3 linked regions of the Homo sapiens genome follow. The protein of the gene in region 1 purifies or fractionates together with the protein of each later gene. This does not show direct contact. Each region holds a gene or a part of one and is shown on either strand. Other genes may lie near its edges.

What was found.
Region 2: the proteins of TRIM43 (region 1) and DHRS4 purify together in Homo sapiens (affinity purification with mass spectrometry; 2 studies listed by BioGRID and IntAct, with this or other methods). This does not show direct contact.
Region 3: the proteins of TRIM43 (region 1) and MIPEP purify together in Homo sapiens (affinity purification with mass spectrometry; 2 studies listed by BioGRID and IntAct, with this or other methods). This does not show direct contact.

The regions. Positions count from the first base shown.
Region 1 is NC_000002.12:95,594,992-95,600,299, reverse strand, and holds the end of TRIM43 (tripartite motif-containing protein 43), read right to left. Parts: intron 5,251-5,308; coding exon 5,155-5,250; intron 4,099-5,154; coding exon 3,868-4,098; intron 2,972-3,867; coding exon 2,949-2,971; intron 2,421-2,948; coding exon 2,323-2,420; intron 1,209-2,322; coding exon 727-1,208; 3' UTR 522-726; downstream 1-521.
Region 2 is NC_000014.9:23,949,764-23,956,797, forward strand, and holds the start of DHRS4 (dehydrogenase/reductase SDR family member 4), read left to right. Parts: upstream 1-4,006; 5' UTR 4,007-4,025; coding exon 4,026-4,153; exon of another isoform or gene 4,154-4,434; intron 4,435-4,984; exon of another isoform or gene 4,985-5,271; coding exon 5,272-5,449; intron 5,450-7,034. UniProt on the Homo sapiens protein: NADPH-dependent oxidoreductase which catalyzes the reduction of a variety of compounds bearing carbonyl groups including ketosteroids, alpha-dicarbonyl compounds, aldehydes, aromatic ketones and quinones.
Region 3 is NC_000013.11:23,865,373-23,872,402, forward strand, and holds part of MIPEP (mitochondrial intermediate peptidase), read right to left. Parts: intron 4,824-7,030; coding exon 4,641-4,823; intron 4,077-4,640; coding exon 3,920-4,076; intron 1-3,919. UniProt on the Homo sapiens protein: Cleaves proteins, imported into the mitochondrion, to their mature size.

The DNA.
Region 1 (5,308 bases):
CTGCACATCTATTATTCCCTGGATGATGCTGTTTGCTTTATTAAACAGCTGCAGAATTCAATGTGGGTTAAACCCTTTTGGTTCTTGCTCAGACATCGCTAGCAAATTCTCAGAAAAGCAATAGGCTGTACCATTAGCCTATGTCTGTAGATGAATATACTATCTAGGTTTTTGTAGTGTGTTCTGATGTTCACACAATGATGAAATCGCCTAATAATGCATTTCTCAGAATGTATTTTGTTGCCATAGGATGCATGACTGTTAAATTCCTGTTCTAGCCCAAAGATTCAGTGACAACTTCTGTGTGAAATAAATTTTTCCCCCCAAAGGGATGAGGTGTAGAATTTACTGTATTAATAGGAGGGAACTCTCACACTTACAAGTGCATTGTACAAAACCCCGTCTGCCCATGATGTACAAAAGTTGTTCCTGAATGAGATCATTAAGTTGGAATCACACACCCACATATTTCCAGAATTCCATCCAATAAATTCACAAACACTTGAAAATCACAATACGTATTTTAGGTAATGGTCCATAAGAGATTATTTTAATTGTAAGAAAATGTACAAAAAGTTTTGCCTTTTACAAATTTTTTATTTAATAGCAATAAAATGAAGTGACACTAAAGTACAAAAAAGCCTGAACAGTATGATTTCTTTGTATCAACAGTGAAGGGCTCCCTTGTATATGGAGTTCCCAAACAGTAAGTTTTCTTAATCCTGATCATCTGTGGCCAGTGTAAAAGAAAGGCCTGACAGGAAAAGTTAAGGAGCCAGCTGGGTAACTCCATATGAGGGAACTCTTGGTGACATTCAAAAAACTCACACTTCCACTTTCAAAATCAAGAAACACACCAACCCGGCCCAGAGGTTTCTCTATGTAGTGAGGAAACACTGGGGAGGTGGTCAAGAGATTGAAATGATTATCCACCTTCAGACACAAAAGAAGAAATATGTCCTCAGAGTTAACCATTGTGCTATTCTTCCTTATCCAGGAGTTGTTACAGACTCCCAGAGCCCAGTCACAAGAGTTGTCCACATCCAGCTCCCAGTAGTGTTTCCCAAAGGAGAAGACCCTGGCTCCCCATGCAGCAAAATAGTCAGATCTGTCAGAATTCAAAGGTCCACGTCTAAACATCCAACTTCTCACATCCTCAAAGAGCCTGATATTGTGATTGGTTACTTCAAAATGGAAGGAAATTTCCACTGTAGAAAAAAGAGAATGTTCCAGTGAAAATCAGTTTGTAAATTCTTATGTTCAGATAAGAAAGAGATTCTCACTAGAAAACACAGGTCAAGATTAGAAAGAAACTTCTGTCTGGAAAAATGTTGGAATCAAAGGGTGTTAGGAGATCTGCACAAGTAAATGGCTAAACTAGGATGATCACAATTTCCATAAACTCAAAAAGTATAAAGGGGAGGAAGGTCATGTCTATGTCTCGTTAGCGACCTTTCATAACAACTGAAAAACTGGAAGCTCCTCCACTGCAGCCAAGTCCATAGCCATAAAATTAACCTTCATTGTCTCGTCTCTGTCAGGGCAGAGCAGGAGGCTTTGGACAGGAGATGAGGTGGGGAGCTATTCTTAGTCCCAAATAAAAAAGTTATCACTTTCCAGAAATATTATGATCTGCCACTTAACCTAGCAAATTCATACTTAAAGAGAAAACCTGAATCTGCCTTCTGAAAAGTGCTGATTCCTTGCAAAAATTATCTGACTTTCATGCCAGATTCAGGCACAGACTTCTTTTATTCTGCTGGATTTGTCATGATCTATCCTGGAGTTCTATCTAAGACCTCATCAACCACCAAATCATGTTCCTATTGTTGACAGATTCTCAGTTTTTGCATTGTTATATAAGTTACTCATGTATGCTTTAGTTGATTAAAAACATGATTAAAATTATAAATGCTATGAAACATCACCTAAAAATGTATTTTTTTTAAAAAAACGCTGTCACTCAAATCAGTCGTTAACTGCACTGAATTTGAAATTGAAATGTCCTGAATTCAGTTCTGTATACTTCATGTAATAATTGTATACATGAAATTGTATCAGAGAATGGTTCCTAAAGTCCTAAAGAGCCCTTCTGCATGTTTTATTTTTCTAAGAAATTTGTTATATGGCTGATTCCTATTACATTTCACCAGCTTTTATTTCGTTTTGTCTGTTTGATGATAGTGAAACTATAAATATAAATACCTATTCACAGGCTATTCTCTTCTTCTAGATGAAAGATCATTACACTGGGAAAGCTGCCCATAGAAAACCATAATTGAAGGCATTGCATGTGGATCCCACCAACAGGGCCACACTCACCTCGGAAGCGGTTGAGCCTGTACACCAGTCCAGTGATGGGTCCTGCAGTGAGCTCTGGATTCACAGGCTGGGGCATGTGCAGCAGCACGGACTCACTCCTGCAAGGAAGTAGGTTGAGTTGGTTAACTTTCTGATGTCTGTGTTTAAGAAACAGATTCCAACAGAAAATGCTTCATTCAAACCCACTTCTGATACCGTAATGTACCTCCACAACGCTAGGATGGGTTTGTGGCTCTTAGGGAATCTTTCTAACTATTCACTCCATTTCTAACCTACTGCCCCTGAAAGATAAATGCCTCTCTCCCTATCTGCCACCAAATAGTTTATCTCTAATTATGATTCTGAATCGCAAAAAGAGGCAACTGTATTCTAGCAACCTCTGCATTGCACTCTTCAAAACATAAACCCCTGAGTCACTTGGGAAAGTAAGAAAAGATTAATGTCTGATAAAAGGCATAGATGACATTCATCATACCACATAAACACATGACTACACACACATACACACACAATCACACTGACACATTATGGTGTTAGTAAATTATGTTTTCACTTTGTTGGAAACAGCTTGATGTTTTTCATAGCATGCCTTGTGCTCCAGTTTGCACTGACGGCCAAAAACATACCTTGCCACGATGTCTCCCAAATCCTGTAGAGAGAGAGAGAAAAAAAAAATGACTTCTTTAGAAAGTTGTTATTCTTGTTGGGTGAGGTGGTTCACACCTGTAATCCCAGCACTTTGGGAGGCCAAGGTGGGTGGAACACCTGAGGTCAGGAGTTCCAGACTAGCCTGGACAACATGGCAAATCCCCGTCTCTACTAAAAATACACACACACACACAAATAGTGGGGTGTGGTGGTTCATGCCTTTAGTCCCAGCTACTAGGGAGGCTGAGGCAGGAGAATTGCTTGAACCAAGGAGGCAGAAGTTGCAGTGAGCTGAGATTGGGCCATTGGACTTCAGTCTGGGTGACAGAAGAAGACTCTGTCTCAAAATAAACACACAAAAAAGTTGCTATTCTGCCTATCTGGTCTTTAGGTTTTCAAAACTTTAGAATTACCGTATACTATTACTGCCACTCTTTTAAAATGTATTCTCATCTCTAACAATTATACCAGTAAGACCTATTGACAATATGGATTTCTGATAAATTAAGGACCCTAAATTTGAGTGAGAGAGAAAGGTGTGAGTAGTGACTGCGCATTGCTGCAGCTGTCTACAATGTGGTCTTTTTCAGGGCTAGTCCCCAAAGTGTAATGTGGCTCAAATCAAGCATGAAATTTTTTCTTCCAGAGTTTTAATGAAATGTGCTGGAGGAGGAAGCTTGTGGTAGAAAATGTTGTATGGAAATCTAGTTGCACAATTCCATAAAGCTTTATTTCCATGATTAGCGTAGGAGTTATAGTTTATCTCTATAACCGGTGGGAATGACTCTCACCGTCAGTACAGGAGATGAGGAAATAATGTCTTTGGTACCCAATGGAAGGCAAAGATGTAAAGGTCAGCTAACACAAAGTGTCTCAAGGGGCATCCTCCATTCTTACCTGGAGCAGCTCCACATCTGGTTTATGACACATTTCCATTAGTTCCTGATACATTTCTTTCAAGTGTTTACTCTTTTGATCCATTTTGACCCAACTTCTCTGGAGTTGCTGAAAAATCTCTTGGTATTCCTTGTTCAGTCTCTCTAAATGTTGTTTTTCTTCCTTATGGAGAACCGGATGCAGCTTCCTATACTCATTCCTGATCATCTGTGCCCGTAAAACCACATTGCCCTGTAGGGATATGAATTTTGTAGGTTATATACCCAGGCCTACTTCCACCTCACAGAGCCTACAACTTCATCCTCCTCATTCCTTCTTTTATTTTCCATCCTTTACAAACAGGATGATGAGTTAAGCAAGACCTTCCTTCAAAATTTATGTAATTCATCAATTCCCAAACACCTGCAAAAAAGCCCTTTAGGTTTAAATGTTTAAATCAAATCGGAAATACAATTAGAAAACAACTAAAATTTATGATTGTTACATTGTCATGGATAATACACATAATCTTTGTTATTCACTTAGGTTGTTGTTTCAAATCTCTGTACTTCACAGCCTGAACAATCACTCTTAGTAGAAATGTTTTTAGTATATTATAATCAGGATCAGAAGCCATCACACAAAAAGGATCTTAGTAAAAAATTTAACCCCCATCTCTCAAACTGACTACCTCTTTTCTGTCTCCTATCTTTCTTCTGTCAAATCCATAGACTCTGTATTGCACTGCCATTCTAAGAACATTAATCCCCATTCCATTGTGTTTCTCCTCTCAATAATGACATATTTATCCTCTCACTGCCCCAGTCATTTTTTATCCCTTCTCCTCAGCTTTTCCTCATGTTGCATTTTCTCCTACTCGGACTGGCATCATGTGGGTCCTTTGCTATCAGATTTCACCAGCACAGGCACATTTCTTAAATTACTGTTCCCACCCGATTTCTTCCCCCTGGACAATATCATATTCACCAATAAATGCCTTTATTTCTCAATTATATACTATTTAATCAACATTTCATAATTAATTTTATACAGAAAACTCTGTCTGAAATACTTATTAATTTTAAGCACATACTTGCCCTTCAGAATTTATATTTATTTTTTACTTATCTGAAAAGCATTTACAGAAAACCTGAACAATCGTTATGTTGAACAGTCTGGTTGTTTTCCAGCCTATGAATAAACACATGACAAAATCTGGCATAAGAATTTCAACTCAAGTTGCTAATATAAATGTTGTCAGCATGCCTGTCTCAAGCTGGTCAGGAGGACTCACGGTCTCATACTTACCCTCCAGAGGAAGGCTGTTCTTCCCTCCTCATATAGATTTCTCTGATTTTCTTGAATCTTTTTCCATAAAATCCTCATTTGCTTTAAGAGTTTCTCCTGCAAAAGAATTACAAGGTTGAACAACAGAAAGTCAAATGCCAAAGATTCCACAATC
Region 2 (7,034 bases), on another chromosome or scaffold:
AGCTATATGGGAAGAAGGTAAAAGAACCATAGGGAAGAGTTACCTTTTACTTTTCAAATAATTTTCTGTCCCTTTTTAAAATAATGTGTTATTTATATAATTTAATGAGTAGATGTGTTGATTTGAAAAACACACTGATCCTGAAAGTTTAAATTCCAGTTGAGAGAAAATTGATTTCTATGAAAACTATGGATTGCCCAACAATGCCAGAAAACTGAAGTGTAACTATGCAACACACACAGTGGTCAAGGTTGTCATCAGTCACTCTGATTTCACATAGAGAATTTAAAACACCTAATTGGGTGCAGTGGCTCACGCCTGCTATCCCAGCACTTTTGGAGGCCAAGGCAGGAAGATCACTAGGTCAAGGGATCGAGATCATCCTGGCCAACATGGTGACACCCCGTCTCTACTAAAAATACAAAAATTAGCTGGGTGAGGTGGTATGCACCTGTGGTCCCAGCTACTTGGGAGGCTGAGGCAGGAGAATCACTTGAACCCAGGAGGCAGAGGTTGCAGTGAGCTGAGATTGTGCCACTGCACTCCAGCCTGGCGACAGAGCAAAACTCTGTCACAAAGTAAAAAAAAAAAAAGAAGAAGAAGTTAAAATGCCACAGTCCTTGGTGGACTTAACAAAAGAAGATGAATGTGGGAATAAAGACAAAGACAAAAGAGTATTTTGGAAGAAGGGGTCAGGAGGCTCCTTGCTTCTAGTGAAGAAGGGCCCTGAGCTTCTATAGCCCTTTGTATTTATTGAGTAAAGGAGATAGGGAGAAGGGGGTAGTTGTCAGTCAGCTGCTTGGCTTAGTGCAGGCTTGCATGACTGCATTCTTTGAACAGTAGTCTCCAGATGTTCCTGTAGATAACCTCAAGGAGCACAGCACCAGGGAGTCATTGCCCTCAGCAAACCTTCTGGTAGCAGGCGCAGAAGTGAGTTTGCCCACATTCTGCATTCATGATAAACAGTTTGCTGTTAGATCATACAGCCTTCAGTGGAATGCTGAGTTGGTCACGACCCTCAGGCCTTTGGCTCCCTACATTAAAACACCCATTTCACCAGACTAAAAATATTCAATAAAATTTATAAAAAGCACTTAACGCTTGCCAGCATTTAGTAAGGAAGTGCTCAATAAATACTGTTAACACTCTTACTATTACTTTCTCTGCTTGGTAGTTGTCCTAACCCCACACCAGCCCTCCCACATTGCCTAATTCTGACTTGTGTCAGTGATGCAGGACTCGACTCAATCTAGGACAGCTATTGCAAAACGCAAGACTTAAATTCCACCCCAGGTGAAATCTCTTCTGGACCGCAGGCAGCCCTTGAAAAGGATGGGAGTAGTGCCCTCACTCATGAAGGCATTTGTCCCTCAAGATAGGCAGATGTTACCACCTCCATGTAAGAACAATCCCATTGCCTGTTACAGTTCCCATTTCAAAGAGATACTCCCACATATGCATGTATTTCCCTGAAAGATTTCCCGTTATTTATTTATTTATTTATTTATTTATTTATTTATTTATTTAGATGGAGTCTTTCATTCTGCTGCCCAGGCTGGAGTGCAATGGCATGATTTTGGCTCACTGCAACCTCTGCCTCCCACGTTCAAGCAATTCTCCTGCCACAGCCTCCTGAGTAGCTGGGATTACAGGCACATGCCACCAGGCCCGGCTGGTTTTTGTATTTTTAGTAGAGATGAGGTTTCACCATGTTGGCCAGGCTGATCTCGAACTTCTGACCACGCCCAGCTAATTTTCGTATTGTTAGTAAAGAGGATTACAGGTGTGAGCCACCATGCCCAGCCCAAGATTTCCTGTTCTTATCTCCAATAAGCGAGCTTGATGAGGAGTAGTGCTAGAGAGTCCCATACTTCTTGACTTCCTTCCATCCTTTTCTGCTCACAGGCCCCCTCCCTAATGTCCCCTGTGCTCTCCACAAAAGAAATAGTGCTAGAGGCCAAATAGCAACCCTGCCCACACAAGGAAGGGCCATGTAATGTTCACCAAGCACCCAAGCCACAATTCTCTCTTCCCAGAATCCTTTGCTCTTTGAAGTGTAGTCTTCCTCACCTTCCTGCCAACCTCAGCCCCTGAGTCCACCTGTCTACCTCTGAAGAGAAGGGAAAGAGAGATCAAACGCCCCCTGCAGGCCTGTCCCTTTGAACCAAGCCCTGAGAACCCCCGCAGCCGTCCTCCTGTGTACCCTCCCCCAGCCGCACACACAGATGGAGAGCCCTGGGAAGGGTTCCCACAGTGCGTTAGCTCCAAACAGTGCAAGAGGACAAGCAGTGTGGCGCTTCCAGCCTCTGTCAATAATTCATGAGGCTCAGACTGAGGAGCACCAGTCAGAGTCAGCCTTCCCTGGACATGGGGAAAATTATACTGAAGCTCTCCTGTCTCATCGGGATCTGCTGAGTAGCAAAGCAGAGTATTGCAGCTGTAACTTCTTGGCTGAGGAAAACACTAGAATTCCAGTGCAGGCCGTTCTATTACTTGCTCACCATACACCCCCTTTTGAATGTTGAAACCCTTTTTCAGCTGCTCAGCTTACCTGCACATATACTAAATGAATCTTGAGCAAACATGAATTCTATTCAAAAGTCATGCCTAGAACTGGATTTCACAAACCAGGATTCTTTCCCCTTTAATTGTAGGGACTGGCATAAGGCTGCCAAACTGGTGATTTCACCAATAACACATCTCTAAACCTACCCATCTGCTTTCATCATCTTTTCTAAAAGAAAACACTAACACACACACACACACACAAAAAGAAGCAAACGTATACTCCACAATAAAGGACTGTTAAATAAGCTTAGCTTTATGAAACTCACTGTAATTGTTTCCTTTTCTCATTTTGCCTTGAACTAGTGAAAACGCTGCCATGAACCAGCACTGCTTCTCAGTCTGGCTTTGGAGGCCAGTGGGTTAAACCAATTCAGATGCTTGCATTTGGGTCTGTTGGGGCCTTTCTACACTGTACCATAAGCCATCCAGATTTCTTCATTCTCCCGGAAACCCAGGAGGGAGATCATTTCAGCCCACTTGGCAGAAGTGCAGACTGAAGTCTTGGACACAGAATTTATAGCTGGCAAGGACTTTATTCATCATCCATACCCTCAGTAATTTACAGATGAAGAGTCTGGCCCAGGGCACCAATAATAATCACTACATGGTGGCAGTAACTACTATGTGCTTAGTAGCTTACAGTTCATAAAGAGATTTTGCATTCAACAAATATTTATTGAACTAAGATGGCGGCTAAGACCTGGGGACAGAGTGGTTAGGGAGAACTTGAGTGCCCCGAGTTCTTTGCATTTCCACCACTGCTTGAGGGACTGTCCAGCCTCCTCGCTACCACTTAGCCCCTGTAAAGGAGGAAGTCCCTTTGTCAACGGACATGAGAATGCTGTTTGGCCAATGACCATAGTCTGCCCTCCAGGGCCCGTGAAGATGGAAGAGACCTTGGGCAGAGTGAAGGGCAGTGCCAGGCCTGGCGCAGCTACTCCCTATCACGTCTCTCTCCCAGGCTCTTCCAGCCTCACCTGGTGGACTCCATGGCGACCACAGGCCTCACCTCCATGGGCAGTCTCAAAACATTTGCCCTCCTGTGGGCTGTCACACACATAGACCCAGACTTTCTTGGAGAAGGAATTCTGAAGAAGCAAAAGCAACCAACTCAAAACCCCCACTTCCCAGAGAAGAAAAGGTGGGCAAGCAGATGCAGAAAGGCAGCAGCCAAAGCCTGCGGGTTCCTGCAAGGGCCAGGGGAGGGGCGAGCCCTACAGGCAACTTGAACGGAGAGCTCACCCGCCAGCCCGGAAAGGCAAGCCCCAGTCAGGCGGAAGGTAGATGGTGGAGGGGCGCCGCGGCGGATGGAGGTGCCCAGGGCCACAGACCGCTCACAGCGGTACCGGGGCGGGGAGCAGGGCGGGCAGGGAATCGGCCCGCCCTTCGTCCTGCCCCTCGCCCTACTCTGTCACCGCCCCTGGGAAGAGTGGAACCCATACTTGCTGGTCTGATCCATGCACAAGGCGGGGCTGCTAGGCCTCTGTGCCCGGGCTTGGAATTCGGTGCGGATGGCCAGCTCCGGGATGACCCGCCGGGACCCGCTCGCAAATAAGGTGGCCCTGGTAACGGCCTCCACCGACGGGTGAGTGCTCCGGCCGGAGTTTCTGAGGCCCTGGCTGCCTGGAAACAGGCACTGGCCTCTCATCCTCGGCCTCCGGTGCCCCTGTCCTCAGACCTTACACGCTGCCAAAGTCTGGCCCTGGAAAAAAGGTAGCCACGTGGTCCGCCTGAAGCCACTCCGAATCCCCTAGCCCTGGACCCTCCCTTGCCAGCCCTCCTGTCCCTGCTACCTCTGGCACAACTGTGCCACCTCTGTGCAGCCCTATCGATCTAGTCTCCCCAGTGTTCTGGGCTGCCCCAGTCAACCAGCGCCACCTAGCGTCTGGGAAGACCAGAAACTGGAAATCCAAGGAAATCTGGATTTCAAAATACTATCCCACGGCCTCCAGCACTTTGAAAATGTACCAGACATTCTATTTGGGCACCGGAAAGTCCCCCGGAACCCCTCCCCCTTACCTAGATGGGACACCAGAGCCATATGTCGAGATTTTTGTTTAGGTCGGTACATCTGGGCCGACCTTGCCCAGCCTGTTTCTCACCCACCATTCTTGTCTATCCTGGTCCTCATTTCTACAGGACTTTGCTAGATGCCAGCTCTTCACAAAACTAAAATACAAATGTAGGTAAAATGCTAATAGCTGACAAATGCAAAATGTGTAACTCTTCCTCCCAAGGCAATATTTACATTTTTGACCGGAGACCATCTTTTCACATGCACCCCAAAAAATAACTAAGGATAGAATTTTGAGAATGATGTAGACGAGTAAGAAAGAAACCTGGGGGCAGGGCTGTTCTGAGTGAGACCCTCAAATCACGGAAGTGGCTGCTGCTGCAAACCCAGCTCATTTCTCACCTCTCAGTCCCAAGAGGGGATGAAGCCTGTCACCCATGGTGGGAACTGTAGAAAGTGATGTCAGTTCTTGGGAACTGAGGCTGTGGTCCAGGTCATAATAAAAACAAGTAAAGGAATGCCAAAAATGGCCATGCCATTAAGCCTGTTTTACACATAGTAGGCACACGTAGGGGTTATATAGAGAAAGAGCCAGAATTCAAACCCGGGCAGTCTTAACTTCAGAGCTCATACTGTCGACCTCTTCCCCTGCACAGGCCTTAGCAGTCTTTGTCTCTTTCTGCTCACAGGATCGGCTTCGCCATCGCCCGGCGTTTGGCCCAGGACGGGGCCCATGTGGTCGTCAGCAGCCGGAAGCAGCAGAATGTGGACCAGGCGGTGGCCACGCTGCAGGGGGAGGGGCTGAGCGTGACGGGCACCGTGTGCCATGTGGGGAAGGCGGAGGACCGGGAGCGGCTGGTGGCCACGGTGAGCTGCAGGGAAATGGGCACAGAGCCAGGAGGTGGAAAACGGAGCCAGCCTGAGCCTCCTTCCCTGCTTTCCTAGACAGCAGCACATTTTTACTGTGTGCCTTTCTATTATGTCCATATACTAACGTCAGAGAATCATCCCATCTCAGTCAGAGAATTTTAAAACATTCTAATGCTTCAACCCTGCATCATCCCTTGAGTACCCCAAAGAAACAGCTGGTACTGGTTCTGCAGTAATTTTCAATCTAATTGAACAGATGTGAAGGGTAAATACAATCACAAAATACATGTTCCCACCCATGAGTTAATAAACATTCCCCTCTTCTTCAGCTTATAGAGTCAAGTCCCTGGGAACCTCAGGAAGCAGCCCACCATGTTTCAGCCACTTACTATGTGCCATTTCCTGTGTTCAGAGCCTTACACAGGTTATCTCTAGACCTGACAACAACCCAAGCAAGGCAAGGACTATTCTCTCAGTCTGCAGACCCTGGCTCAGATAGCTGGAGCAACTTCCCAAGGTCCCACAGCCAGTAAGGAAAGACCCAGACCTCCCAGGCTCCCTTCCTTTATTGGCTGCCTGTGGACTACCGGGTACTGGACTTTAGTCTCAAAGAAAGTATATAAGTCGATGTCAGAATTAGTAGTGGACACCAGCCTTGCAGCTGCTGAAGCAAATATGAAGCATTCACAAAGGAAGCTCCTCTTCCCTTGAGGCTCACGGCATACACTTTATTTCCCAGAGTGGAAGGGAGAATCTACCCAAAAATGGAAAGTACAGGATTCTGCTAACAGATTGGAAGGTTGGCAGAAATAATTTGCATAATCTTAGAAGAGGAGGATCTTAAGCAATAGTAGACAGTAGTATGGTAGACAGAATAGGGTAATTCCATTTTTAAGGAACTGTCTGGCAAATGCTCAAATGTGCATTGGAAAGAGCCAAATATGAGTCCAAGAAAGTCACAAATGTGAGTCCAAAAAAGCTTGGCTTAGGCTGATGGACAGACCCCAAGATTGGGGCCTTGATCCTGATGGTGGAAGGAGCCGTTTGGGAGTCTGGATCAATTAGCACTAACCATATGACATGTAGCAATGTAATGTGAAAATCCTCCCGGAAAAACATCCTGTGGCCCCCACCAGGTTCACTTAACATGGCCTACAGGCCTGGCCCAGAGGTGGTACTTGAGCTAAACCTTAAGGAATGGATGGGAATGGACAGATGGAATAGTGATGAGGTTCCAGATAACTCTGCAAAATGAGCAGACAGCCAAGGAGGAACTGAAGGAAACAGAGGAGCACTGTCAGGCCACAGTGGAGAGCACAGGCTCAGGAGTACTGCTGGGGAAGGGGCTGCATTGGAAAGATAGAGGCCATGGGCCTCCATATCCTTTTTTTTTTTTTTTTTTTTTTGAGACAGAGTTTCATTCTTGTTGCCCAGGCTGAAGTGATATGGCACAATCTCAGCTCACTGCAACCTCCGCCTCCAGGTTCAAGCAATTCTCATGCCTCAGCCTCCCGAGCAGCTAGGATTACAGGCATCCACCACCACGTCCAGCTAATTTTTGTATTTTTGGTAGAGACAGGGT
Region 3 (7,030 bases), on another chromosome or scaffold:
ACCCAAACCATGAGGTTTCTTGCCACTGTCAATACTTAACAAGTCCTGTGTATACGAATTCTGAAAACACTGGCTCATGTGCCATATGAAACAACAATAGGAATTTTTGGGGAACAAAGACATTATTTAGTCAACAATGAAATCTCATTTTAGGATTATATTCCAGGTACCATACCAAACTGTTTTCAAATGAATCCCTATGTATGCTTGTATACGTTTTATTTCTTAATAACCGTGTTTTAACATTCACCCATCTTATTCTTCCAGTCATTTTACATGTGAAGAATCTGCCTCAATTAATTTTTTTTTTTTTTTGAGATGGAGTCTTGCTCTGTTGCCCAGGCTGGAGTGCAGAAGTCCCATCTCGGCTCACTGCAACCTCTGCCTCCCAGGGTTCAATCGATTCTCCTGTCTCAGCTTCCTGAGTAGCTGGGATTACAGGCACCCGCCACCGCGCCCAATTAATTTTTGTATTTTTAGTAGAGATGGGGTTTCACCATGTTGGCCAGGCTGTTCTTGAACTCCTGACCTCAAGTGATCTGCCTGCCTCAGCCTCCCAAAGTGCTGAGATTACAGGCATGAGACACCACATCTGGCCTGCCTCAATTAGTGTCCCCAGAGAATTGTCATATTAAGATTCAGTTTGAAACCCCCCACTAAGTGCCTCACCGCAGTTACCTCCTCATTCACTAGCCACATGAATGCCCGCCTTAGCCTCAGTCAGCCTCTCTGTCTTCCTTCTGCTCTGCTGAGGACTCACTCCATCACTGTGCATGACAGTTTCATTTCCCTCAGGGCGCCTTCCACAGCCACAGATGCATCTGACAAATGCCCCGAGCTCCTAAATCCCATGGCATTGTTTTGTCTGTACTACTCCATCGACACCGAAAACGTGCCAACCTCTATTATTATTTATCTTTTTATATGCATATATCCAGCTCCTCAACTAAGCTTTAAATCCTCAAGGACCCAGAGCACATCTTACGTGATGATGTGCACAACAGCCCCCTGCCAATACATCAGCACACCAAGCACTTAGTGCACAAGGGTGACCTGCCAGTCACGGAATCTGGAGCTGGGTGCTGCAGGTCCAGTGAGCTCCACGCTGCTACAGCCAGTGGTCATGCCCAGCCCTCCTCACATCTGACCTGGCCACAGCATGAGTCAGCTGATCTCTCCCCTCTCCTGTAGACAGACCTTCTGCGCGGCCTCCAGGACCACACCCTGTAATCACTTTCCACCTCCCTTAGTGGCCGTTACATCTGGCAGCGTTAACTAGCAGTTCCTCACATGCCTGGCCTCTTAAACTTGAAGGCCCCAGAGCGCAGTCCTTGGACTTGTTCTTTAAGTTCACTCTCTTAGTGGTATCAGAATCTCATTTTAGAGGTTCAGACTTACATATGAAGCTCAGAACTCCACACTCCATCTAACTGCCTACCCAACTTCACCACTTGAACCTCATTTGGTATCTCAAACTTAACTTGAAACAAACCAAGTTTCCGGTCCTCCCAATCTTAGTTAACAGTAGTAACTCACTCTCTTTCTAGTTGCTTAGGTCGAAAATGTTGGCTCCCTCTTCCAAATACTCTGTACCCAGAATCTGATCACATCTTACCACCTTCCCTGCTACCACCTGGTCAAGATGCCAACACTTCTCATCATGGTTACTGCAAAACAGCATCTAAACAGGCCCTCTTCTACCCTGGCCCTGCTGCAGTCTTCTCTCAGGAACAGCAGCACTGACTCACCATTAGCACTGGAGTCAGATCATCTCACTCCTCTGCCCCAACCCCCACAGTGACCTGCTGCACTTGCATCAAGTCTCTACTTAATGCCGCCCCTTGTCAGTCTGTTCCCACCTCTCGCCACTCTCCTTGCACACGCTGCGCTTCAGCCACTCTGCCCTCCTCAAACGTGGCAGGCATTTTTCTGCCTCAAGACCTTAGCACTTGATAGTGACTCTGCGTGAAACCTTTCTCCCCTCAAGAGCCACAGCCTCATGCTTGTGTCTGTCAAGAGCACGCTCACATTCCACATTCTAAGTGAGCCTTCCGACAATGCTCTCTAAAACTCCAACACCAGCCTACATGCCCACATACCTTATCCCCTTCCCTGTTCAGTTTTCTCCATGGCTTGTATTAACTAATAACATACCACATACTTTATCTACTTATTTCGTTCTTTACTGTTCTTCCCTTGCTCCCAAGAATGTAAACTGCATAAGGATAGGAATTTTCTTCTGCTTTGTACACTGACTTATTTCCCTGACCGAGAATAATATCTGACATACAGTGGGCAATCAGTAAATATTTGCTGAATTAATAAACAAAAGGGGGATGTAGATGATATAAAACATAGGGCATTAGGTCTCAAGCAGCCTGTGGAAAACCATAAATGTAGCATATGTGTTTAGGCTTCAGTTCTGCCACATTTTAGCAATATAACCTAACCTTAGATTCCTTATCTGTGACACGAATACAAATACCTACCTCACAAAGCTGCAGAGGAAGGAAATGAGATAACAACAGGATAAGCACTGAATGATATTCTAATATTATTATTTTATATAAATATAAAATAAAAATATGGTACTATTATAATCAAACTGTTGACAACAGCGACTACAGAAAAACATACTTTTCACCAAACTGATACTTACAAAAAAAGAAAAAACATACACTAAAAACACACATTTAATACATAACATACATATTATATCTGTTTAGGAGCTTCGATTATATGAAAAAAAATGTAAGTGTTTTAAGGGTTCGGGGACAAAGGAGTCCAAGGAAAGTGAAAAAGTTTAACCAGCTTCATGAAAGAGGTGGGTTTTGAGCTGAGCACTAAAAAAACGGGGTAAGATTTTAACAGGCAGACCAGGAAGAAAAGCTGCTCTCCATAGGAGAGTGACACGAGCAAGGGAACCCAGGCCGCAATGAGCGTGACACGCCTGTAGCTTAACCGAGAGCCCTGACAGGTCAAGGGAAACAGTTGTTTACGAAAGAGTAAGAAGTAAGATTGAGTGCATTTAGAGAACTTTGGAGAAGAGAGGAACATGCTAGGGTGAGAAGGGATAAGCACAGAAGGAATAAAGACAAGCGAGGATTCAGGTTGTGATCTGCCCCCAGTGTCCCCTCTGTCGGTGAGTGGAATGTCTAACCAGATGTACAACCAGAAACCCAGGGGGCCCACCACAATGCCTCCTCCTCCCTCTCACCCTCACTAAGTCTTGCAACTTCACTGCCAAGACCTTGAGTCTCACGCAGCTCCATCATCACGGCCACCCTACTCCTGACTCACCACCTAAATTACAACTGTAAGTTAATAAATGCTTCTGAAAAAACGTATTATGTACATTTATATTATTATTGTGTAACATTTTCTCTTAGACATTATGAATCATAAGGAACTCAACATAGCACAAGGCAAGTTTATGACAAACCCAACGACACACTTCCGTAACACCTCACCTAGCACAAACCTTCCTAAGCAGTACTCTTCTCTCTGAAAAGGAGGCTTATCTGACTGTGTGTTTTTTATATGACCTAACCTACATTTAACCTTGACCTCAGTAAACATACTGATCTTTCATTCTCTTACACTAATTCTAACCAATTTGTCAAATTCAGCACAGAAACTGTGTTAAAATGAAAACAATTTAGACTAACATCAAAATGAAAATTTAGGTTATGATTTTACTCTCAACATTCACATAAAATAAAATTCTTTGGTTGGACAGAATTATGCCAAATTATTAGCTCTATTTAAAAATGGTTCCTATAAAAATACATAGAAAATCTCAATAAATGGTTCTCTACATGTATTAAAAATAGAACACTAATTTACAGCTATTTAAAATCAAAAGCTCAGTTTCATAAAAATCCTATTTTGCCCTTAAATGTTGGATAAACAGGCTTACCTGGATTTTTAGCTATCGTTCCTTGGAGAGCCCTGTGAGAAAACGTGGAATACCCCACCAACTTTGCCAGAAGATCTCTGCTGCTGAGCAATTCTTCTAAACATTTCAATTGACCAGCATTGGGATAAAGAAAAATTTTATAAGCAGCTTCTCGCACCTACGTTTAAAAAGTAAATGGTGAAGGCTATAAATATCATCACACAGTCCTATGCAACAATAACACAGGCTCATGCTCACCACTTGATCTGCAGATGATCACTGCTTTCAAAATAAAGCAATGGTCTACACGAGGCCATAAAGCTTCCAGAGTCATAAAATAGCATGGGATGCAATAGCATACTTGACTGCAGCTCTAGGGTACTGTTCTGAGGTACGGTGGGGCAAACCTCTACCCAGTGCGTGGATCTCTATGCTATAAAGCGTCTTAACCAGGAGAAGTAAGGCTGCATGAATTTAAAAGTCTCTGTAGTCTAGAATGTCAGTTAATGGTGTTATTAATCATACTTTAAAAATAAGGAGTCTTGTATGAAATATAAGTAATTAAATCATTTTCATTCTTTAAAGTGTTTATGGCATTAATAATTCCACAAGTTAAATTTTTAGGGCTTAGTAATGCTAAAAAGTTTTTAAGGATACTATTATATTATCACTGAATTTTGGGTTAAAACAGTAGCAACACACAAATGGGACCTAAACAACAAAGAGAATGAAACATACATACCAAGTCATCTGGTGATTCTGCGTGGAGACCATCAATTATGATATGATCCCCAGCAGATGTAAAGTTACGACGAATGTGTTCTGGTAAGAGATGCTTCTCAATCTTGTTGGGAAAATTGGTTCCCATAAGAAATGTACTACTCAAATCCAAGATTTTAACATTGAGGTCCACTGCTCTTTTACGCTGTATGCAGGAGGAGTAAAAGTTATTTAAAGGCGTTTTGAATTAATATTTCACAATTTAATAAACAAAATATAAATATGTCAAATCAACATATATATTGTTGAATTATCACTTAATAAAATATTAGTTTAGTAAAATGAATATATTGTTACTATATTATAAATAATATATTAATTTTACTTTTAACAGATATTTAATATTCTAACAAAAAGATCATACTTATGGTTTTCTGATGTTTCTATGTTTTAAGATTTACATAACTTCTAGTTCTATTTTATGTCTAGGTTATATAACTAATTGTTGAAATTAACAACATTGAAAAACACATGCCAGGTGCAGTGACTCACGCCTGTAATCCCAGCACTTTGGGAGGCCAAGGAGGGCAGATCACTTGAGGTCAGGGGTTGGAGACCAGTCTGGCCAACATGGTGAAATCCCATCTCTACTAAAAATACAAAAATTAGCTGGGCGTGGTGGCACGTGCCTATAATCTCAGCTACTCAAGAGGCTGAGGCACGAGAATCGCTCGAACCCAGGAGGCGGAGGTTGCAATGAGCCGAGATCGCACCACTGTACTCCAGCCTGTGAGACAGAGGGAGACTCTGTCTCAAAAAAAAACAAAAAACAAAAAAACAGTTATTTGCAAAAGTGTAGTGAGCCTCCAGAAGGGGGAAGCACATTTTAAAAGTTCTGATTTTGGGTGTGGTAGCACACGCCTGCAGTCCCAGCCCTATGTGGGGCTGAGGCAGCAGGATCACTTGAGCCCAGGAGGTAAGGCTTCAGTGAGCTACGATCACACCACTGCAACCTGGGCAACAAAGCGAGACCCTGTCTCAGGGGGGAATAAAGTTCTGATTTTGCATGTGCTTGAGCTGCTACAGAATGATACAGTGAAGTCTAAGAAGCAGACTGGAACCCCAGGGCATGGTCCTTTCTTCTACTCTGTGTCCCTGCCATGTGGCACATGGTCCTTGCTCCTGCCAGGCCTTCAAATGGTCAGTGATGAGGACGTGGATGGTGCGGACACATCTGCTTAGGTTTAATCTTGCAGTCATATCTTTGTAATACACAATAACCTGAGAAAACGTGTATTAGCAAAGGGGTTGCCATAAATGCTCTAAGATTAAATATAAACTAGAAACCACATAATTAGGCTGACTGGAGGAGAAGGGCTGAATTTTCAGTTATTGGCTACTCAAAAACTAGACAGGCTCTGCAGATGAATTTTCAGTTATTGGTTACTCAAAAACTAGACAGGCTCTGCATATGAATTTTCAGTTACTGGTTACCAAAAAACTAGACAGGCTCCGCACTGGGCTCATGTTGGGCTTCAGGTGAAAGTGTACACAAATCTTTCTGGGAGAGGAGATAGCAATTAACAAGTTCTAAACTGTTCTATGCTCCTAAAAAATGATTAAGCCACAATACTAATATACTTTTTAAAGATAAACATAGATGATGTAGAGGCATGCTTGATAAGATGCTGAAAAAATTGAGTATATATCAATATCCCCAGAATTTCAATATAGAAAATTCAAATTTCATGGAAAAAAGTTTTAGGAGACTCCCATTTCCTTACAGTCCAGATTTCTCTTTGCTTATTTTGTTTGATATGGCCATTTATCACCACCTAATGGTAACAAGTGGAATAACAAAAAAGATGAACAAGATTTTGAAATCACATTACAGTTCCAAAATTGTCTTCAAAACTTTTACTTTGAAAAAAAAAATGTGATAAAATTAACTACTTTGAAGATTTTATCTACTGATAAAACCTCTGGAAAAATCAAAACTGAGTTCATGCCAACTTCAATGATCTGCCAGGCATATCACTTCATCATTCTGTGGTAACAATGAAATGTACAATAATCTGAACTCTTGAAAAATTCTATGAAATTTCTGTGTTATTAAATAATGTTAAAAATAAACATTTCTATTACATTTAAACTTATAAGTTATATTTGTATGAGACCTTAAAAATTAAGGCCGGGTGCAGTGGCTCACGCCTATAATCCCAGAACTTTGGGAGGCTGAGGCAGGTGGATCACCTGAGGTCGGGAGTTCGAGACCAGCCTGACCAACATGGAGAAACCCCGTCTCTACCAAAAATACAAAATTAGCTGGGCGTGGTGGCACATGCCTGTAATCCCAGCTACTCAGGAGGCTGAGGCAGAAGAATCGCTTGAACCCGGGAGGCGGAGGTTGCG